2 separate regions of the Homo sapiens genome follow, and region 2 is linked to region 1. Evidence: fine-mapped expression QTL. A gene starts in region 1. The other region holds a variant in brackets. All regions are shown on one strand. Distances are between the middles of the regions.

The links. PIP is the estimated chance that this variant, and not a neighbour inherited with it, causes the effect.
Region 2: its variant is fine-mapped to the expression of SMPDL3B in whole blood (TOPMed, PIP above 0.99).

The regions. Positions count from the first base shown.
Region 1 is chr1:27,928,007-27,939,657 of GRCh38, reverse strand. SMPDL3B (sphingomyelin phosphodiesterase acid like 3B) reads right to left here and starts at 4,658. Exons shown (of 8, transcript NM_014474.4): 1 at 4,414-4,658. The coding sequence starts at 4,474. RefSeq lists a silencer at 4,531-4,796 and an enhancer at 4,123-5,024.
Region 2 is chr1:27,765,228-27,776,878 of GRCh38, reverse strand. STX12 (syntaxin 12) reads right to left here and starts at 3,660. Exons shown (of 9, transcript NM_177424.3): 1 at 3,454-3,660. The coding sequence starts at 3,571. RefSeq lists enhancers at 2,823-3,323, 3,521-3,670, 3,324-3,824, 3,791-3,940 and a silencer at 3,201-3,410. The variant G/A (reference allele first, on the strand shown) is at 6,637.

The sequences.
Region 1 (11,651 bases):
TTTGTAGAGGTGGGGTTTGCCATGTTGCCCAGTCTGGTCTCAAATTCCTGAGCTCAAGTGATCTGCCTGCCTCGGCCTCCCAAAGTGCTAGGATTACAGGTATGAGCCACCACACTAGGAATGCAGGTATATGCCACCACACTCAGCTACTTTTTAAAAAGAAATTTAATTTCTCCGTACTTGGGAGGCTGAGGCAGGAGGATCCCTAAAGTCCAGGAGTTTGAGGTTACCTTGAGCTATGATTGCAGCACCGCACTCCAGCCTGAGCAACAGATAGAGACCCTGTCTCCAAAAAAGAAAAATAAGATAAAAAAATTAAAATCATACATGATATGGGATCTTTTTAGTATGATTTGTGATAGGGGTGGGGAGAACTCCCATAGTCATAGTCATTTATAAAACCTAAGTTCTTAAAATGGCTAGAAGGTGAGTTCCCTTATGGTTGGAGACAGGGGGGCAGGAAGGCATCTGCCATTCATTTAGCACCTACTGAATGCCAGACACTGTGCCACACACTCTATCCATGCAGCCTCATGACAACATTATGAAATGCATCCTAAGATGTACTCATTTTACAGATGAGGAAACTGAGCGAGTGAGCGGCAGACCGGGGATGCCGAGCACGTCAGAATGGAAATGATCACAGTGCACTATATTCTGCCACCACCTACCAGCATGGCCTTGGAGATATATACAGGTTTTCCTTGACTTACAATGGGGCTACGTCCCCCAAAATTGAAAATATCATAAGTCAAAAATGCATTCAACACACCCAACCTACCAAAGGGCATCGTAGCTTAGCCCAGTCTACCTTAAAGGAGCTCAGAACACTTACATTAGCCTACAGTTGGGCAAAATCATCTGATGCAGACCTATTTTATAATTAAGTGTTGAATGTCTCTTGCAATGTATTAAATACTGAATTGAAAGTGAAACACAGAGTGGTTGTATGGCTTCTCGAAGTGTGGTTTCTAATGAATGCCTAAGGCTTTCGCCCCATCATACAGCTTAGTGGAATCTTCGTAAGTCAGGGACCATCTGTGTGTATGCCTCCTTAAACTTTTACAACATTTTACAATGTACCTGGCATGATCTCACTTAAGGCCATCACATTTAATCTCTCCTCTGCTAACATCCCTATTTTATAAACAGTAAAATAAAGGTTGCAGGTCACACAGGTATTCAAAGGCAGGACCACAGGTAGGACCTAAGTTTTCTGGCTTCAGGCAGTAAGTTATTTCTGCAAGGACATGCATGAAACCTGCAATCAGGGACATCTTATTTTGAATCCTGGCTCTTCCATACAGGCAGTGGCAACTTAAGCAAGGGATTTTCAGAGCTGAGCCTTAGTTTCCTCATCTATAAAATGAGGATTAGAATGCACCCAGCAGAGGGATGCTTGTGATGCAGAGCAGGTGAGCCCCAAAGTGGAGCTTAGCCCATGAGGGTTCTTGGCTTTGCCCAGGAAAAAATTCAAGGGCAAGCTTGAGGTTGAAGCAAACAGCTTTGGTGAACAGGTGATGTACAGCTCCATGACTGCTCCTGCAGAGCAGGGCTACCCCAGAGGCAGAGAGTAGCAGCTCAGGGCAGTTTTGCAGTCACATTTATACCCACTTTTAATTGCCTGGAGATTAAGGGGCATTTATGCAGAAATTTCTAGGGAAGGGGTAGTAACTTTTAAATCATTGGGTTACTGCCATAGAAGGGGCAGTAACTCCTGGGTGTTGCCATTGCAAAGGTAAATTGACATGCCACACTGCTGGGTGTGTTTGAAAACTGCTTTTGCCCAGGCCGTATTTTAGCTAGTCCTCAATCTGGTCTGGTGTCAAAGCCCTGCCTCTGGAGTCCAGTCCCACCTCCTGCCTCAGTTGTGCAGGTAAAAGAGTTCTCTTATACAGAGCACCTGGCTGTGGGGTGAGCAAGGCAGCCTTAGGACTCATTCCCTGGGCCACACTGCCCCTCAGCCTCCGTTTCCTCAAGTATAAGATGAAAGTACTGAACAGAGGTTCCCTGAAGGCCCTCCTAGTCTGACTCCTGTGATTCAGTGGCTTTTGTCTGTTATTGCCTATAACCCACACCACACAATGGTCTCAGTCTCTATTTCAGTCCTTTGCTATTAAGGCTAGCATTAGCCCCAAAACACAATTGTAATTCATCCTTTGTAAATGGAGGCCCTCCAAAACCCATGGAGTTCATTTGTTAAAACCTACATTTACGGACCACCTACAGTGAATACCCTCTGTTCACAATAGCTCCAGAGGTAGGTGTTACCATTCCTGCCCTGGTCCTGCTCCCTCAGCCCTGGGCTGGCCTTCCAGGGAGTGTTTTCCTACCAAGCTAACCCACAGGGGAAGAACCTGTCTGCTTCTCTGCAGTTAGAAGCTGAGGAAGGAGCGAAATGTTACACAGGACATGTGTAGGAGGAGAAGGAGCCAGCAAGTTGGCATCCACCCAAGCTCCTGGCTAAGGAAAGTGGAGGCAGAAATCCCACAGTTTAATGCAAAGCAGGGATGATGCTGTCTGATCCCCTGTCTCAGAATCCACCTGTGCTTCAGGAAGACACCTGGAGTTGGAAAAACCTTACAGGTGCTGCGGAATTCCTTTTTTTGTTGTTGTTTGTTTGTTTGTTTGTTTTTTGAGACGGAGCCTCACTCTGTCGCCCAGGCTGGAGTGCAGTGGTGCAATCTCGGCTCACTGCAAGCTCCACCTCCCGGGTTTACCCCATTCTCCTGCTTCAGCCTCCCAAGTAGCTGGGACGACAGGTGCTCATCACCACGCCTGGCTAATTTTTTGTACTTTTAGTAGAGTATTTTTAGTTTCACCGTATTAGCCAGGATTGTCTCAATCTCCTGACCTCGTGATCCGCCCGCCTCGGCCTCCCAAAGTGCTGGGATTACAGGCGTGAGCCACCGCATCCGGCCCGGAATTCCTTTTAAATTTACTTTAAAAGGAATACATTCCAGCAAGTTTGGAGAAAAGAGAAAAAAATAGTACCTCTAAACCCCACCATCCCAAGAGGACATGAAGCATAGTACAGCCAGGCACAGGCTTTGTCCTGCCATTTCCCAGCTGGGAGATCTTCAGCAAGTGCAATGTCCCCTCTGAGACTCATTTGCCTCATCTGCAAAATGGGTATAATGATATTAGCACCTACTTCAGAGGGGCTATAAAGAGAATTTTTTTCTTTCATTTTCTTTTTTTTTTTTGAGATGGTCTCATTCCCGTCACCCAGGCTGGGGTGCAGTGGCACAATCACAGCTCACTGCAGCCTCAACCTCCCAGGCTCAGGTAATTCTCCCAGCTGAGTCTCCCAAGTAGCTGGCACTACAGGCACCCACTACCACACCCAGCTAATTTTTGGTATTTTTAGTAGAGTCAGGGTTTTGCTATGTTGCCCAGGCTGGTCTCAAACTCCTGGACTCAAGCAATCCACCCTCCTCAGCCTCCCAAAGTGCTGGGATTACAGATGTTAGCCACTGCGTCTGGCCTCAAGGGTCCTTTTAAACATACAGAAGTCAGAATAGATTACACCTGTGCCTAGAACCCTCCAATGACATCCCATTTCACCCTGAGCAAAAGCCTGCGTCCTTCCTATCTACAGGCACGTGGAAAGAAAAATGTCTGAGTCCTCAAGAGAGTCTTCGAGGCTATCCATGATTTGGCACCTGCCCCACCCCACCATCTGCCAACCTCACCCCCACTTGTCCTGCCCACCCTGCTTCAGCCACGCGGGCTTCCTTGCTGTTCCTCATGCACATCTCCTGTGTGTCCACCTCAGACCCCGTGCACTGTCCTCTCTTCCTGTAATGTTCTGGACACCCATGTGGCTCCCCCACTCACTGCCTCAAGGCTCCACTTGAGTGTCACCTGATTTGACAGCTCTTCTCTGGACGTCTTGTAAGTACCCCCTCCCCACAACCCGCCTTCCCTGTTCTACTTTATTTTCCCCATAACACTTATCATCTCCTCCAATGCTGCGTACTTTACTTGTTCGTGTGGTTTGTTTTTTTCTCCCCAGATGAAGGAATTCTTCATTGAGACGGGGACTTTCTTTTCTTCTCTGATATATCCCTGGCTCCTAGAATAACGTATGGTACAGGAAAGGACCTCATTTGTTGAATGAGTCCACGAATCTTTCCTGCCACCTCCTACCTCTACTAATTAGCTAGCTCTCACGTACCCAGACCTCTTCGCAATGTCGGTGTCCCTCCCTGGCCAGCTGGCGCCTCCACTTAAAATCTTCAGCCTCAAACAGCACTTGCTAAGGCCCACTAGCTCTCCCCACCTGCCTCCCTGCCTAGCTCCTGCCTTGCTATCTTTAGAAGCACCTTCAAGCTGGCTGCGAGCAGCTTCCCGCAGCCCCAGAGTTCACAGTACAAAACAAAGGCATAGCAGACATTCCCAGTGCTGTACCTGGTTCAGCCCTGGCACCTCCCCAGTTAGCCAGGAAAATCAGCCAGGCGAGCAGCCTCATCCTCGGGGCTCACTTCCCCAGAGCCGTGGGATTCTCAGGCACTGTTGTTGTTCTCACCACAGGCTTCCTAAGTAGTTTTCTGTGGCCACGTGCCTGAGCAGAACTCCTTGTCCTGTTACAGGTGTTCCAAGTCCTCCAAGGCGTCTGGATCCTCTGGCTCTTCCTCCTTTGCCCAGCAGGGTATGATCTGGGCTGGCCCGAGGAGGCAGGCATACCGGACCCTTAAGTGGAAGCCACACCTCTCCTGCCAGTGCAGCCCCTGCCCCCAAGAGGGAGGGGCAAACAACAGAATTGCCGGTCAGCACATCAGGTGTATTGGCAAGCCCCGGAAAGGGGGATCTAATTCAGACTGAGGAATGTGAGAGGGCTTCTAGGAGGGGGTGACACGTTTAATCCTTTCTTAACATTGTATTATGGAAACAGTCAAACAGAAACAGGAGAGAGAATGGTGTAATGAACCCCCAAGTACCTTCCTCCAGCTTCAGTAATTATGAACTTATGGCCACTCTTATTTCATCTATACTCACTTTTGATTATTTTATGTATTTAAACAACTTTTTTTTTTTTTTGAGACGGAGTCTCATTCTGTCACCCAGGCTGTAGTGCAGTGGCACCATCTCAGCTCACTGCAAGCTCTGCCTCCCGGATTCACACCATTCTCCTGCCTCAGCCTCCCGAGTAGCTGGGACTACAGGCGCCCGCCACCACGCCCGGCTATTTTTTTGTATTTTTAGTAGAGACGGGGTTTCACTGTGTTAGCCAGGATGGTCTCGATCTCCTGACCTTGTGATCCACCCGTCTCGGCCTCCCAAAGTGCTGGGATTACAGGCATGAGCCACCGCGCCCGGCCCTATTTAAACAACTTTTAAAATTTTTTATTATTTTAACTTTTATTTATTTATGTATTTTTTTAGAGAAGTGTCTCAGGCTGGGTGCAGTGGCTCATGTCTGTAATCCCAGCACTTTGGTAGGCTAAGGCAGGAGGATCGCTTGAGCCCAGGAGTTTGAGGCCATCCTGAGCAACATAGTGAAACACCATCTCTACAAAAAATAAAAAAATTAGCTGGGCATGGTAATACATGTCTATAGTCCAGCTACTTGGGAGGCTGAGGCAGGAGGATCCCTTGAGCCTGGGAGGTAGAAGTTGCAGTAAGCCAAGATTGCATCATTGCATTCCAGCCTGGGTGATAGAGCAAGACTCTGTCTCAAAAAAAAAAAAAAAAAAAAAAAAGAAGGGGGTTGTCTCACTCTGCCACCCAGGCTAGAGTGCAGTGGCAAGATAATAATAGCTCACTGCAGCCTCGAGCTCCTGGACTCAAGCTATCTTCCTATCTTCCTGCTTCAACCTCTGGAATAGCTGGAACTATAGGCACTCGCTACCTCACCTGGCTTTTTTTTTTTTTTTTTTTAGAAACAGCATCTCACTACATTACTCAGGCTGGTCCCAAACTCCTGGCTTCAAGTGATCCTCCCACCTCAGCCTCCCAAAGCACTGGGCTGACAGGTGTGAGCTATCATACCTGGCCCTCACTGTATGATGTTAAATTCCAGTGATCATATCATCTTGAACGTAAACAGTATTTATCTCTAAAAGGTAAGGATTCTCTTTTTCTTTCTTTCTTTTTTTTTTTTTTTTTGAGATGGAGTTTCACTCTTGTTGCCCAGGCTGGAGTGCAATGGCAGGATCTCGGCTCACCGCAAAATCGGCCTCCCGGGTTCAAGTGATTATCCTGTCTCTGCCTCCCGAGTAGCTGGTATTACAGGCATGCGCCACCACACCTGGCTAATTTTGTATTTTTAGTAGAGATGGGGTTTCTCCATATTGGTCAGGCTGGTCTCAAACTCCCAACCTCAGGTGATCTGCCCAACTTGGCCTCCCAAAGTGCTGGGATTACAGGCGTGAGCCACTGCACCCGGCTAGGACTCTCTTTTTCTAACACATTATCAGATCTAAAAAAAAAAATAGTAATTCCACCAGGCGTGGTGGCTCACACCTGTAATCCCAGCTACTTGGGAGGCTGAGGCAGGAGAATCACTTGAACCCGGGAGGCGGAGCTTGCAGTGAGCCGAGATAGTGCCACTGCACTCTAGCCTGGGCGACAGAGCGAGACTCCACCTCAAAAAAAAAAAGAAAGAAAAAGAAAAACAGTAATTCCTTACTTCCACCAGGCAGATATGTGGTCAGTTTCCCTGATGTCACCAAATTTCCCTGATGTCTCTTTTTTTTTTTTTTTTTTTTTACAGCGGGTTCTTTCAAATCAGGGTCCAAACAAGGTCCACACATTGCATTTGGTAGATGTGTCTCTTAAGTCTCCCTTAATTTGTAGCTCTCCTGCCCTCTCCCCATTTTTTCCTTGTTCTTTGTCCTGTGAATTTCCCACATTCTGGAGGATTTGGCTGATTCCTTTCTGGTGGTGTCATTTAACATATTCCTCTGTCCCCCATATTTCCTGTAAACTGATAGTTACAGCCAAGGGTTTGATGACATTCAGGTTTGACTTTTGGGGAAGAAGACTTCTCAGGTGGTCTTGGGTCTTTCCTGTTGTTTTGCATGGCAAAGCACGTAAGATATGGTTGTCCCACCAGCTTAACCTTAATTTACAAGTAGGAGTTAGCAGGAAAAGGAGAAAGCTGGGGAGGAGGGTATCCCAGGCAGAAGGAGCTGAATCATCCCAGAGAGCTGAGTTGGGTGATATTGGGCTTGGGGTGCTAAGCCTGGGGAAGCAGGCAGGAGCCAGGTTGTGCTCAGCTGTTTGAGCTGAGAGCTGTGGGGAGCTATGGCAGAGACACAACCTAATTTGCATTTTAGAAAGATGCACTGGCTCTGTGGAAGATGGATTTTTGGGGAAACCAGCAAGCAAGGAGGCTAAGGCAGGGAAGTTGTCATAGTCCTTTCTGTGCTGTTATAACAGAATACCTGAGACTGAGTATTTAATAAAGAGCAGAAGTGTATTGGCTCACAGTTCTGCAGGCTGGAAAGTGTAAGATCAAGGCACCAGCAGGCTGGGTGTCTGGTAAGGCCATTCGCTTCTTCCAAGATGATGCCTTGCATGCTGCATCCTCTGGAGAGGAGAAAGGCTGAGTCCTCACATGGCATGTCTTGGCAAAGGGCCAAGACAAAAGAAGACCAAACTTGCCCTTTTGTAACAGCATTACTCCCACTCATGAGAGTGGAGCCCTGATGGCCCAATCACCTTCTAAAGGTCCAACCTCCCAATACCTCCATAATGGTAACCAATTATAACACCAGCTTTAGAGCGAACAAGCATTTAAACCATAGCAGAAGTCTTGGTGAAAAGCTGTAAGGGGCTACGCTTAGGAACTGGTAACTAGTAGTAGGGAGGAACTGAAGAGGCTGTGGCTGGGTAATTGGTTGAGTAGTTCCTGTTCTAACTGTATTTTTTTTTTTTTTTTTTTTGAGACGGAGTCTGGCTCTGTCCCCCAGGCTGGAGTGCAGTGGTGCCATCTCGGCTCACTGCAAGCTCCGCCTCCCGGGTTCACGCCATTCTCCTGCCTCAGCCTCCCGAGTAGCTGGGACTACAGGTGCCCGCCACCAAGCCCGGCTAATTTTTTTGTATTTTTAGTAGAGACAGGGTTTCACCATGTTGGCCAGGATGGTCTCGAACTCCTGACCCCATGATCCGCCCGCCTCGGCCTCCCAAAGTACTAGGATTACAGGCTTGAGCCACCACGCCTGGCCTCTAACTGTATTTTTAAACCCCATTCTAAGTAGGTAGCAAAGATCCCTTCCCTTGGAGGAGGATGTGGCAGAGTAGAAAGCCACAGCTTCTTGGAGACAGCTACCTCCAGGGTGTGTCCTCTGACCTCCTAGAGGGGGTAGTGAAAGGAGGGAGGGAACAGTCATAAGAGAGGGGAGACTGGCATAGCCAGGGCAGCAAACAGACGTTGCTGGATCTTAAGAGTTCAGGTTGCCCCTGGAAGGTAGCAGATTCTCAGACAGGAAGTCCTTGGACATTTACTTGGGTTCAATAAATATTGGATGTCTAGAAAGTGGTGAACAGGCTGGGCGCGGTGGCTCACACCTGTAATCCCAGCACTTTGGGAGGCCGAGGCAGGCAGATCACCTGAGGTCAGGAGTTCAAGACCAGCCTGGCCAACATGGTGAAACCCCATCTCTACTAAAATTACAAAAATTATCTGGATGTGGTGGCAGATGCCTGTAATCCCAGCTACTCGGGAGGCTGAGGCAGGAGACTTGCTTGAGCCCGGGAGGTGGAGGTTGCAGTTAGCTGAGACCACGCTATTGCACTCCAGCCTGGGCAACAAGAGCAAACTCCGTCTGAAAAAGAAAAGAAAAAAAAGACAGTGGTGAACAATGCAACAATGCAAAGCCTCTGCCTTCACAGGGCTTACATTCAGCTGAAAACATGGGCATTGCACAAATGAATCAACCACAAGGCTCCTGGCCTAGCTAAGTCCCTGGGGTCAGAGGTGCAGCAGAATTTCCAGCCCCTAGGAACTGTGTAGCCTTAGCCGATGAGTATATTATGTCCACAAACAACTACAGACTAAAGCCCCATTTCTGTTTAGGGCCTAGGTCACCCCAAGGAAATGAGGGGCATCAAAATAATCACTGAGACTGAATCTTCTGCCAGTCCCGAGGGAAGAAAGCTCAGAGACCCACTGCTATTGATTTAATGAAAATAAAGCCGTGTGACTTTTCTTGCCCCTGAGCCTGTGGCCTGATTTATAATCTAGGGCATGTCGAGGTATGCGTGGAAGGTAACCTATGGGACTGGTGGGGAAGGAGGGCAGGCAAGGAGTCTAGGGCAGCCAGTGCTCCCAGGGCTGAGCAGGCAGTTGGCAATGGTTACACCTGAAATTGGAACAAGGGAGAGAGTTCTGGGAGGGCACAGGAGCTCCTCATAAGCCCATCTGAGGGGTGCTGGAGTCTTACTCAGCTTTTGACTGCATGCAGGGCTTCTTTTCTTTTTTTTTTTTTCTGAGACAGGGTCTTGCTCTGTCACCCAGGCTGGAGTGCAGTGGCACTATCATGGCTCATTGCAGCCCTGAACTCCCAGGCTTAAGCAATCCTCTCACCTCAGCCTCTCAGGTATCTGGGACTACAAGCGCACACCACCACGCCTGGCTAATTTTTGTATATTTAGCAAAAAGGGGGTTTGGCTGGGTTACCCAGGTGGGTCTCAAACTTTTGGGCTCAAGGGATCCGCCCACCTCACCCTCCCAAAGTGCTGGCATTACAGGCATCAGTCACCACACCAGGCCTGCAAGGGCTTCTTTTAAATACCTCAGCTTTTTGGTCAGTGTCCCCTGAAGACGCCATCATCACCACCACCAGTAACCAATAAGATATCTTTGTGAATGTAGAAAAGGGGACTCCTCTAGGCCTTTGTGTGAATTAGAAAAAGATGCCTCCAGCCGAGCACAGTGGTTCACACCTATAATCACAGCACTTTGGGAGGCCAAGATGGGAGGATTGCTTGAACCCAGGAGTTCAAGACCAGCCTAGGCAACACAACAAGAGCCCATCTCATTAAATAAATAAATAAATAAATAGGCTGGGCATGGTGACCTCACACCTGTAATCCTAGCGCTTTGGGAGGCCGAGGCAGGCGGATCATGAGGTCAGGAGATCGAGACCATTCTGACCAACATGGTGAAACCCCATCTCTACTAAAATTACAAAAATTAGCTGGGCATGGTGGCGGGTGGCTGTAATCCGAGCTACTCTGGAGACTGAGTCAGGAGAATCGCTTGAACCAAGAAGTTGGAGGTTGCAGTGAGCTGAGATCGTGTCACTGCACTTCAGCCTGGCAACAGAATGAGACTCCGAAAAAAAAAATTAATTAATTAAAAAATTTATTTTTTTTAATTTTAATTTTTTTTTTTGAGATGGAGTCTTGCTCTGTGGCCCAGGCTGGAGTGCAGTGGTGCGATCTCTGCTCACTGCAAGCTCCACCTCCCGGGTTCACACCATTCTCCTGCCTCAGCCTCCCGAATAACTGGGACTACAGGCACCCGCGACACGCCGGGCTAATTTTTTGTATTTTTAGTAGAGACAGGGTTTCACTGTGTTAGCCAGGATGGTCTCGATTTCCTGACCTTGTGATCCACCCGCCTCAGCCTCCCAAAGTGCTGGGATTACAGGCATGAGCCACCGCACCCGGGCAAAATATATATATATATATTAAAAAAAAAAAATAAAAAAGGAAAGATGCCCCCATCCCAGACAGACACAGCCAGGGCTCAGAGTGGAAGCAGGGGTGGGGGTGGGGAGCTAAGCCCCCACTCAGTGCTCTGTCAGGAGCCTTTGACTCAATGGCAGTGCTTCTTCCTGGGCCTGACCAGCTGGAGGCGCCTGTGCTGGGTTTGCTGAAAGAGGTAACTGAAGAGGGAAATCCGAGGGGTCTGGACTTTGCCTTCTTAGCTACAAAACAGCCCCTCTTCTTCAAATTGCCCAAACCACTTGTTTGACTCTTGGCAACTGTAATTTCCAGGAAATCCCCACCACTCTTAAGAGAAAAGCATGTTGGCCAGGCACAGTGGCTCACACCTGTAATCCCAGCCCTTTGTGAGGCAAAGGAGGGAGGATAGCCTGAGCCCAGGAATTCAAAACCAGCCTAAACAACATGAGAGGCTCCATTTCTACAAATAAATATATAAATAAATAAAATTAAAAATTAGCCAGTTGTGGGCACGCACCTGTAGTTCCGGCTATTTGGGAGGCTGAGATGGGAGGATAGATTCAGCCCAGGAGGCTGAGGCTGCAATGAGCCAAGATCACCACTGCACTCCAGGCTGGGCAACAGAGTGAGATCCTGTCTCAAAAAAAAGACATGTTGTGTGAAGCTGACAAGAAGCAAGGGCTCTTCATGTTTTTGTTGTATCCCTTTTTGTCCTATAACTTCAGTAGTGCACGTTAGTAGAAAAACCAAACTCTGTAAAGTATTTTAAAGAGGTTTTTTCTGAGTTAATATGAGTGACCACACCCAGTGGAAACACAAACCCAAGAATCCTTGAGTACGTGGTCCCAGGAGGTCGAATTACAGTTTGGTTTTATACACATTAGGGAGGCAGGAGTTACAGGCAAAGACATAAGTCAATACACGGAAGGTATACATAGATTTGGTCTGAAAAGGCAGGATATCTTAAAACAGGGGCTTATAGTTTTATTTATTTATTTATTTGTAGACAG
Region 2 (11,651 bases), 160 kb after region 1:
ATGAACACACCACGAGAAGAGAAAGCACCACGGCTTCAGGTATTTCCCCCACAGAGTGTCCTCTGGAGAGTGAAAAAACAAGTTATTTGCATACTTGTAAACCTGAAGTGTTAACTGCTATAGCACTGTTATTGATTTATTTATTTTTAATTTATTTATTTAGAGACAAAGTATTGATCTGCCACCCAGGCTGCAGTACAGTGGCATAATCACAGCTCACTGCAGCCTCCAACTCCTGGGCTCAAGAGATTCTCCAGCCTCAGCCTCCTGAGTAGCTAGGACTACAGGCACATGCTACCATGTCTGGCTAATTTTTAACTTTTTTTTTGTAGAGATGGGGTCTCACTATGTTGTCCAGGCTAGTGTCAAACTCCTGGCCTCAAGTAATCCTCCCTCTTTGGCCTCCTAAAGTGCTGGGATTACAGGTGTGAGCCACTGAGCACAGCCCAGAACTGTAATATTAATAAAAAGTAATAAAAAGACAAATTGCTGGTCATAAGAGACCTAGTTTCAAATTCAGATATTGTCATTTGTTAGCAGGGCAACTATTTAACCTTTCTTAGTTTGTTTCCTAATACATAACATGGAAATGATACTGGTGCTTCAGAGTTGTTATAAAATAAGATAATGTATGTAAAGCACTTTTCATACTGCCTGGAACACAGTATGTACTCAAATGTTAGCTATTAATATTACTAACAGTTGACTTAAATGATCCCCTGAGGCCCAATGCCCAATCAATAGCTAAATCTTACCAATTCTATCACCAAGGAAACCTCTCCTATCCTTTCCTTTCTTTTCATTTTCACAGCCCTAACTGGTATCTCTGATTCCAGTCTCTCCCTTTGAATTCAATTCGCACTTTCCTAAATAACTAAATCCAAGCCCCTTAGCTTAGCATTTAACATCCTTCATGTTTGGGCCACAATTTACCTTTCAATCCTTTTTTCCCACTACTTTCTGGAATCCACCACTCTAGCCAAATTAAATTACTCTTCTAGATATACTCTATGCTTCCCCACTATGATGCCTGTTCATTTTATTCCCTCCTGGAATGCTCTTCTCCTCTTTACCTTCGAAGGTCCAAATCTTTCCATCCTCTTTCCAGACATAACTCAAATGCCATAATGCCTTCTCAATTAAAAACAATCTCTCTCTTCCCAGAATACCTGCATGTTATTTATATGTCTTCTATAGCACCAATCCCTTTCAACTTTATATTTTGGTTATGAACTCTGCAGGTTCCCTGTTGAAAGATCCATGCCAGTTCTTATACTTACTACATACTCAAATAAATATATGTTGAAGGCCAGGCATGATGATTCATGCCTGTAATCCTGGCCTATTCGGAGGCCAAGGTGGGTGGATCACTTGAGCACAGGAGTTCAAGACCAGACTGGACAACATGGTGAAACTCCATCTCTACAAAAAATATAAAAATTAGCCGGGCGTGGTGGTGCACACCTGTAGTCCCAGCTACTTGTAGGGCTGAGGCAGGAGGACTGCTTGAGCCAGGGAGGTTGAGGCTGCAGTGAGCTGAGATCATGCCACTGCATACCAGCCTGGGTGACAGAGTGAGACCCTGTCTCAAAATAAAAATTTAAATTTAAATTTAAAACTGTATGTCGGATCTACCTTTGGGAGTATTCTGGTTTTATATATATATAAAATACACACGAAGATGGATAGATGGATACATGTTGAATGAATATTTCGCAAATAGATATTAAAATTAGATTTAGCTTCAACAAGAAAATTTCAGCCTTGAACTAGAATTTTCTGATCTAACCTGTATTACAGCTCCTTCACAAAAGGAAACTGGAACAAACAGTACTATACTTTCTAACCAGTGGTCATATTAATTTTTTTTACTTCTGGATTTTAACAGGCCACATATTCTTCCTTTCACTTCCAGAGTCTCAATCCCTTTTGATCAGAAACTTTCTACTTCTCAAATTCTACAATATACATTTAGATTTAAAAGCAAAGTGAGCCTGGGCAACATAGTGAGACCCCATCCCTACAAAAAATTTAAAAATTAGCCTGGCACGGTAGATGCATCCTTGTAGTCCTTGCTACTCAGCAAGCTGATCAGGAATTCAAGGTTATAGTGAGCTAGGATTGTACCACTTCACTCAGATCACTGCATTCTGCCTGGGTGACAGAAGTAGACTCTGTCTCGAAAAAATAAATTAAAAATATTTTAAATCAAAAAAATTAGGCTAGGCACAGTGGCTCACGCCTGTAATCCCAGCACTTTGGGAGGCTAAAGTGGGAGAAGTGCTTGTGCCCAGGGGTTTGAGACCAGCCTGGCCAACATAGCAAGACTTCATCTCTACAAAAAAGAAAAATTTTTAAAAGTTTAAAAACGAAAGCAAAGTGACACTCTTTAAAATATAGAATATAATTGTAATTCAGGACTAACTAGTTCTACCTATTAACAGAGTACGCCAAGCTCACAAAACAATAATAAACAACAAGGATGATGACCACCATTCTTTCCAAGTAAAGCTGCTGCTGATCTCCTGTTTATAAGGCTCCAAGATGATTTTCAAGCACAAGAAACACCCTGTATTTGACTCATTCAGCTACAGTTTCACTCAGACCCTAATGGGGAGGAGGGAGTTTTAAGACAAGCAATAGCATTCTGAATTCCACCAACAACTCTACCATGCCTTACTTGCTATGTGGTTGTGGCTAAGTGTCTTAGCTTCCCTGTGTACCAGATTTGTTCAAGAGCAGCTAAGTAGGGAAGGAAAACAAAAGCCTCATCTGCCTGAAATCCAAAAATACACCCCAATTATTTGTTACAAAAGACAAAATAATGTAAATTGAAATGCTGTTGGTGAATTCTCTTTATTAAAATGAAGTCATCCCACCTTTCAAATACCAGTCATTGTGTCTGATTTCCGAATTCATTACAGGAAGAACTGTGTATGAAGTCACCCAAACACATGCACTCTCCACTTCCCTTAATTGAAAGTTGCTGATTTCCGAGGAGCCAGGGGCTGAGCAGAATGTAAACCTAAAGGCTAAATCAGTAAACAACCCCATCCAAACTGGTCTAAGAGGAAAGCGAGGTGGGTGGGGAGGAAGGTGGGTGACAGGAGAAACTCGGCTGACCACTGCGCCAAGTCAACGCACTCACAGCTCTCGAGGTGACACACACTCCCCTTCCCACCCTCGGGCTGTCAAGTCGGCTGTTTTGGTCCCAGCACCGTGGGGGCAGAACTCCAGAGAAGCAGCTCAAGCTTCAGCTGGGGCCGGGGACCCTCGGGCAACCCGGGCCTGACAGATTGGGGGATGGCAGCCCACCGCCCCCAGGGTGGACAGCCCGAGACAGCCCCAGGTGTGGCCTCGGCCGTAGCCCCAGCCGGGCCCTGCGTCCCGGCAGCCTCACCCAGGCCTGTCCCCGGGACAGCTCCCGCCCCCCAGCTCGGTACCCCGGCTCACTGGCTTGGCTGATCCGCTGGATGTTGCCGCTGCACGTCTGGATGATGCTGCTGAAGTCCCGGAGCTGGGGCCCCGAGGGCCCCGGGTTCCGGTACATGTCTAAGGGACCGTATGACATGACGAGGAGCTGAGACCTGCTCGCTCTACACCGCTCTCCTACCGGAAGCAGCCGCCAGCCGGGACCCGCAGGCTGACGGAGAAACTGGGAAGAGCAAGGGCGGGGAAGGAGCTAAGGCTGCGTGCGCACTAGCCCCGCCCTCACGCGGCGCGCACGCGTCCTCCCCGCCCCGGTCCAAAGTGCGCAGGCGCCGCTGGGACTGGAGCTGGGACTGGAGCTGGGACTGTAGCTTAGAGACAGGACTCCCCGAGGCTTGGGGATGCAGGGCGGGGAGATGACGTCACCTAGTTGGGGCTGAGATTGGATGAGCTTGGGTGGAGGTGTTGTTTCTCGCCAGGGCACAGTGACAAGAGGCAAGAATTTTCGATTTGCATAAAACTGTACCAGATGATCTCAGCCCTTACATCCTATTCTGTTCTGAGAATTCAGGCCCAAATATGGGAGAATTCAACGTTGAAACTCAGACCCGGAACCAAATCGTAACCCGAAATTCCTCTCTACTTCCATCCCCAGGGCTTTGGTAGTGTTTGGGGTTTCCAAACCACTTTCATTTCTCCCTCCACCCCTCTTCTAATCTAAACAATAAAATAATGTTTATTGAGCACATACTATGTGAATCCTCACCGCAATTCACTTGTTCATAAGATTTTTCACAGCAGGGGACGATGCTCTATCTATATTTTTATCATTAGAATAGATAACGGAGAGTCGGTTTTTTAAATGTTGAAGTAAAGTAATTCATCAAAGTAAGCATTATTATTTTCCCTCTTACCGATGAGAAAATTAAGACCAGCGAGGTTAGTTCGCCTTGCTGAAATTTGACTGCAAAACCCAAACGCTAAGCTGACTCTCTCCTCACCTCGCTACTTCTCTAAAATTCATTCTCGTCTAAATCTCTCCCAAATAGCTCGTTCATCTATATCCCAAGCCGGGATATCTTGGAGAACTAGATTCCTAAAATTTAAAAATCGTTCCCTTAAGTAATTTGGAATGCATGACCTCAATGTTCCCACAGAAAACTGCATTTTTGTAAGCCTATGTTAAAAGGAAAGACATAGGATTTTGGTTTGGGAGGAGATCAAGATAGTGAGAAGTGAAGGGGAACTGGCTGCGTTTCCTGTGTTCTACACCCCACCCCACCCCACCCCAGCCTGCTTTGTAGTCTTTGGAAAATGCAAAGACAGAAAGCTGCTTGCCTGGATGAAAGGAGACCCAAAGTGAATGAGCCTGTATATGGCCTTAGGATTTTTTCTTTATTTTATTTTTTTTGAGACAGGGTCCCGCTCTGTCACGCAGGTTGGAGTGCAGTGGCGCGATCTCTGCTCACTGCATCCTCCTTCTCCTGGGCTCAGGAGGTCCTACCACCTAACCTCTGAGTAGCTAGGATTACAGGCGTGCGCCACCACGCCCAGCTAATTTTTATATTTTTTGTAGTGTTGGGGTTTGGCCATGTTGTCCAGGCTGGTCTCAAACTCCTGGGCTCAAGCAATCCACCCACCAGCCTTAGGATTTTTTAAGGGTGACTATCTCTATTTTTCGTTGGAGAATTTATGAGAGCATTTTTTTTCCCTGTCTCTAGAAAGAGACGGATGACATTTGGGGACTCTTATTTTGGTTATTTTATTTTATTTTATTTTTGAGACAGAATCTTGCTCTGTTGCCCAGGCTGGAGTGCAATGGCGCAATCTCGGCTCAATGCAACCTCCGCCTCCTGGGTTCAAGCGATTCTCCTGCCTCAGCCTCCCGAGTAGCTGGGATTACAGGCGTGTACCACCACGCCCGGGTACTTTTTGTATTTTTAGTAGAGATGGGGTTTGACCATGTTGGCCAGGCTGGTCTCGAACTCCTGACCTCAGGTGATCCACCCGCCTCGGCTTCCCAAAGTGTTGGGATTACAGGCGTGAGCCACCGCACCCAGCCTGTTTTGGTTATTATTATAAAACCTTACCGTTTCTTAGAATCTGTAGTTTTATGTCAAATCTTAAGCAAGTCATGTAAATTGCACTTTTTTACCTATATAATAGTACTGATGATTTTTTTCATTTACATTTGACACTATTTAAAGTGAAGTTCAGTAAAGATATTTTTCTTTTAGGAATTAAAAATATTGTTTTCTTTCTCCATGTAAAATAAAAGTGGTTTTTAGGCTGGGCGCGGTGGCTCACAACTGGAATTCCAGCACTTTGGGAGGCTGAGGCAGGCTGATCATTGCTTGAGCTCAGGAGTTCGAGACCAGCCTGGGCAAAATGGCAAAACCCTATCTCTACCAAAAATACAAAAATTAGCTGGGCATAGTGGCCTGAGCCTGTAGTCCCAGCTACTCGGGAGGCTGAGGCAGGAGTGTAGCTTAAGCCAGGGAGGCAGAGGTTGCAGTGAGCATCTCTCATAGCAGTAAATCTGTGCCTTGCAAATACTGGATGTCAAACAAACATTTATTGAATTAACACATGAATAATAAAAATAATAATTTTATCATTGCTTAAATGCCTGTTAGGTGCCAGGCAGTATGAACACATTTTGTGTACGTTATCAGTAATCTCCAAGATAAAGCCCATCTGATAAAGACCACCTGTAGTCAGACAAAGTTAAGTTTATTAACTTGCTGCTGCAAGGGAAACTGCACACCAAAAGAATCATGGAGCATGTCACAAAACACAGGAAGACAGTGAGTTATTCCAGGATTTGGGGGAAAGAAATGTAGATAAATTTTTAAAGAAGCAGTGTTTTGATAGCCCCCAAACACACCAGGCTATGTGTAAAGGGATTATCATCAGGCCCCAGCTAACAAGATCCTGTTTCCTTGGAAACCATGATGCCAAGATAAATGTGGAATGTTGTGTCTGGAAACCCCTTATCTGAAGCTCTGCACCTGCGTTAGAAATTGAGGCTGCTCTTCTGCATCAAAGTAACTGATCCTCCAGGTAAGAGTGATATATTCCATTCTTACTGATAATTTGAGCAACAAATTTTCTAAAAATCTATGGCTTTAGAGAAAATGTCTCTCAGCTCTACATACTTTTGTTAATTAACGAAAGTAGTCTTCATGGGTTTGCACCCATCAAGGC[G/A]ATATTAGCTCCTTGGTACGGATAAAGAAACTAGAGATTCTGGGTACTTGCCTAATGTCATACAGCTGTTAAGTGACAGAGCCAGGATTCCCATGCACCTTCTGACCCAGCAATTCTACTCCTAACTATATACCCAACTATGCGTGTTCCAAAAATCAGGTATAGTTCATAGGAGCATTTTTAGGACCAAGCAGCATTTTTCTATACTTATTTACTTTTTGTTTTTTTTTTTCGGAGACAGGCTGGAGTGCAGTGGCGTGATCTCGACTCACTGCAGCCTCAATCTCCCTGGCTCAAGCCATCTTCCTACCTCAGGCCTCCAAGTAGCTGGGACTACAGGCACGCACCACCACACCTGGCTAATTTTTGTATTTTTTTGTTGAGATGTGGTCTTGCCATGTTGCCCAGGCTGGTCTCAAACTCCTGGGCTCAAGCAATTCACCCACCTCGGCCTCCCAAAGTGCTGGGATTACAGGAGTGAGCTATGACACCCAGCCCTTACATTTAATTTTTATTGAGTTATAATTGATATACAATCGAATGCACAGATAGTAAGTGTTCAGCTCAATGGATTTTGACACTTGTACACATCCATGTAACTGCCACACCCAAATCAAGAGATAAAACATTTTTATCATCACCCCAGAAAGTTTCCTTGACTTATGCTCCTTTTTAATCCATTTCCCTCATCACTGGAAGTTACTTACTGATTTTTTTTTTTTTTTGAGATGGAGTCTCACTCTGTCGCCCAGGCTGGAGTGCAGTGGCACGATCTTGGCTCACTGCAACCTCCACCTCGTGATTCAAGCAATTCTCCTGCCTCATCCTCCCAAGTAGCTGTGAATATGGGCATGCGCCACCATGTCCAGCTAATTTGTTTTGTATTTTTAGTGGAGACAGGGTTTCACCATGTTAGTCAGGCTGGTCTCGAATGATCCACCCGCCTCGGCCTCTCAAATGATCCGCCTGGCTCAGCCTCTCAAAGTGCTGGGATTACAGGCATGAGCCACACTGCACCTGGACTTTACTTTCTGATTTTTGTCACTACAGATTAGCTTTGTCTGCTCTTGGACTTCATACTTTATATATTCTTTAGTGTTTGGCTTTTTTCAATTAACACAATGTTTTTGAGATTTATCCATGATGTCACATATATCAGTAGTTTGGTCTTTTTTTATTACTCATTAGTATTTCCTCATATAAATATACTTACAGTTTGATTATCCATTCTCTTATTGATGGATGTTTGCATTGTTTCCAATTTGGTGTTATTATGAAGTTCATAGCAGTATTTATTTTTACTAGTTCCAAACTGTAAACAACTCGAATATCCATCAACAGAGGTTTGTATAAACAGATATTATAAAGCACAAAAATAAATGGCCTACTGCTGTGTGAACAACATAGGTGACCTCTTCCCAACAATGCATAGCTAAAGAAGCCAGACACAAATTAGCTAGGCACAGTGGTGCACACCTGTAGTCCTAGCTACCTGAGAGATCAAGGTGAGAGGATCCTTGAGGCCAGGAGGTCAAGGCTGCAGTGAGCTATGATTGCACCACTGCACTCCAGCCTGGGCGACACAGCGAGACCCTGTCTCTTAAAAAAAAAAAAAAAAAAAAAAAAAAAAAGGAGAAGAGGAAGCTAGACATAAAATGAGTACAATCTGTATCATTTCATCTTTATTAAGTTCAAAACTGGCCAAATTAAATCTATGTTATTAAAAGTCAGAATAGGGCCAAGTGCAGTGGCTCATGTCTGCAATCCCAGCACTTTGGGAGGCCAAAAGGATGGATCACTTGAGCTCAGGAGATCAAGACTACCCTGGACAACATGGTGAAACCCTGTCTCTACAAAAAATACAAAAATTAGCTGGGCATGGTGGCACAGGCCTGTAATCCCAGCTACTCGGGAGGCTGAGGTGGGAGGATGGCTTGCACCCGGGAGGCAGAGGTTGCAATAAGCCAAGATCATGAAGTATCACTATTACTATCAGTATGGTGAGCTTCCTGGGGACTGGTAGGGAGGAGTTAATGGGGAAATTCACTTAGGTTGCAAATAATACTGTATTAAAATTAGCACTCATCATATATTGCTGGTGGGGATGCAAAATGGTACAGTCACTTTGGAAAATAGTTTTACAGTCTCGTATACAGTTAAGAATAAATTTACCATACAACCCAGCAATTCAGCAGCTCCACTGCTATATATTTACCCAAGAATAATAAAAACACATTTCTATTAAAAGACCTGTATGCAAATGTTTACGGCAGCTTTATTCGTAATAACCAAAAACTGGAAGCAGCTCAAGTGTCCATCAACTGCTGAAGAGATAAACTGTGGTACATCCATACAGTGGAAAACTATTCAGCTATAAAAAGAAACTACTGAGACATGGAATAAATTACTGAGACATGCAAAAACACGGATGAATCTCAAACACATACGCTAAGTGAAAAAAGTCAGACGTAAAAGGCCATATCCTATATGATTTTATTTATATGACATTCTCTTTTTTTTTTGAGATGGAGTTTCACTCTTGTCGCCCAGGCTGGAGTGCAATGGCATAATCTCGGCTCACGGCAACCTCTGCCTCCCAAGCTCAAGCGATTCTCCTGCCTCAGCCTCCCGAGTAGCTGGGATTACAGGCATGTGCCACCATGCCTGGCTCATTTTGTATTTTTAGTAGAGATGGGGTTTCGCCATGTTGGTCAGGCTGGTCTTCAACTCCTGGCCTCACGTGATCCGCCCACCTTGGCCTCCCAAAGTGCTGGGATTATAGGCGTGAGCCACCGCACCTGGCTACATGACATTCTTGAAAAGGCAAAGCTATAGGAATATAAATCAGATTAGTGGTTGCATAAAGGCTGGTGTGGAGGGAAGGGCACCAAAGGACTCAAGGGAACTTTTGGGGTTGATGAATATGTTCCATGTCTTGATTATGGTGGTGATTACACAGCTGCATATACTTGTCAAAACTCATTGTGCACTGAGGGTTATTTTTGTGTATGCCAATTTTATACACACACACAGAGACACACATACTTAAATGACACTCTAGAAATCAACGCAATAAAGTGGCATATATGAGGTGGGTAATGTGGAGTTGAAAAAGAGGTATAAAAGTTGTGGGTTGCAATAATGGTCTGACGGCCTAGAAGTGACATAGGACTAAAGTGACTTCGGAAGCAAAAAAACAAGTAAACATACATGTTCATTCTAATTTATGCCTCTATCACCTTCCTTCTTAGGAAACATAAAATGTTGATTCTGTAGAAGTCATAGATGATAATAGCTTACAAAATTGAGTGCATACTATGTACCAAGCACTGTTCTAAAGACTTCTACATGTAGCTGGGCATAGTGGCTTGAGCCTGTAGTCCCAGCTTCTCGAGAAGCTGAGGTAGGAAGATTGCTTGAGTCTAAGAGTTCGAGGCTGCAGTGAACTGTGATCACGCCACTGCTCTCTAGTTTGAGCAACAGGGTGAGATCTGAGTCTTTTTTTTTTTTTTTTTTTGAGACAGAGTCTCCCTCTGTCACCAGGCTGGAGTGCAGTGGTGCGATCTGGGCTCACTGCAACCTCCGACTCTCTGGTTCAAGCGATTCTCCTGCCTCAGGTTCCTGAGTAGCTGGGATCACAGGCACATGCCACCACGTCCAGCTAATTTTTGTATTTTTAGTAGAGATGGGGTTTCACCATGTTGGCCAGGATGGTCTCAATCTCCTGACCTCGTGATCCGCCTGCCTCAGCCTCCTAAAGTGCTGGGATTACAGGCGTGAAACGCCGTGCCTGGCTGAGATCTGATTCTGAAAAAAAAAAAAAAAAAAAAGACTTCTATATGTGTTATTTAATCCTCACAACAACTCTAAGGTAAGTAGAGACAGGAAGTCTCTACTTCAGGCAGCCTGACATCATAGCACCACACAGTCTCACTTTTCAAATAGGGTTGATAATTTGCTGGAAGTACAGCCTGGCAAGCCCTGGTAGTTGGAGAAGTCATGGATTCCAGTAATAGCTAAGAAGTATGAACTACTTTCCCCCAAAAGGTAATTTTTATTGCTATCTTCAAAATCCAGAGGTTCACACAGTCGTTACTTGATCCTATTGGCCAAAAGTCAATGTGGTAGCTAGCCTCCAAGGTGGACCCTCAATATCATCTTCTGGTATTAATGCACCTGGACAGTCTCTTCCCACATTGAAGTGTCAGTAACTTGACCCCTGTAACCAATAGGATATTGCAGAAATGATGGAGTGTGATGTCTGAAGGTAGGACATAAAGGACATTACAGCTTGCTCTCTCCGATCTGGTTTAGTTCCAAAACCCATTCCCTCTGTGGCAGGTTGTATTTTATAAGATGGTCAGCACAATAGCCTCCACCTCATATGCTCTTCTACTTTGTTGTCCTCTGTCCAGTGAAACGGCTGTATATGCAAAGTGAACTCCAAATGCCGAAGGAGCTGAGGAGCCAAAGGAGGAGGCAGACAAATCCAATTTGTCAGTATTGGTTGATTGACTGAGGGAACTTACACACAGAAGCATAGTCTTGGGCAGCCACAAGACAGGTAGATTTCTGTGCTGTTACTCCCCAGACCCAAAGCTTATATACCATAGTGAATAGGTATACATGTTCTAGGAAGCCAGTTAATTAAAGGCAATCCTCCAGGACAGGCAAAAGTGCCATGTGCATCATAGACTATAATTTGTGCAATTAACATCAAGGCTGACATGTTCTTACACCAGGGACAGTAAATAAAATAGCAACCAGCTAATTTTTGTATTTTTAGTAGAGATGGGGTTTCGCCGTGTTGGCCAGGCTGGTCTTGAACTCCTGACCTCGTGATCTGCCCACCTCGGCCTCCCAAAGTACTGGGATTACAGGCATGAGCCACCGCTCCTGGCCTGTTTATACTATTTTCTTACCCTACAGTGGTTTTAAAGGCTGAGTAAATGAGTCAATTAAGATAATTCACACAATAATTGTAGTCATAAATATAGCCTACAAAATAGGCGGGG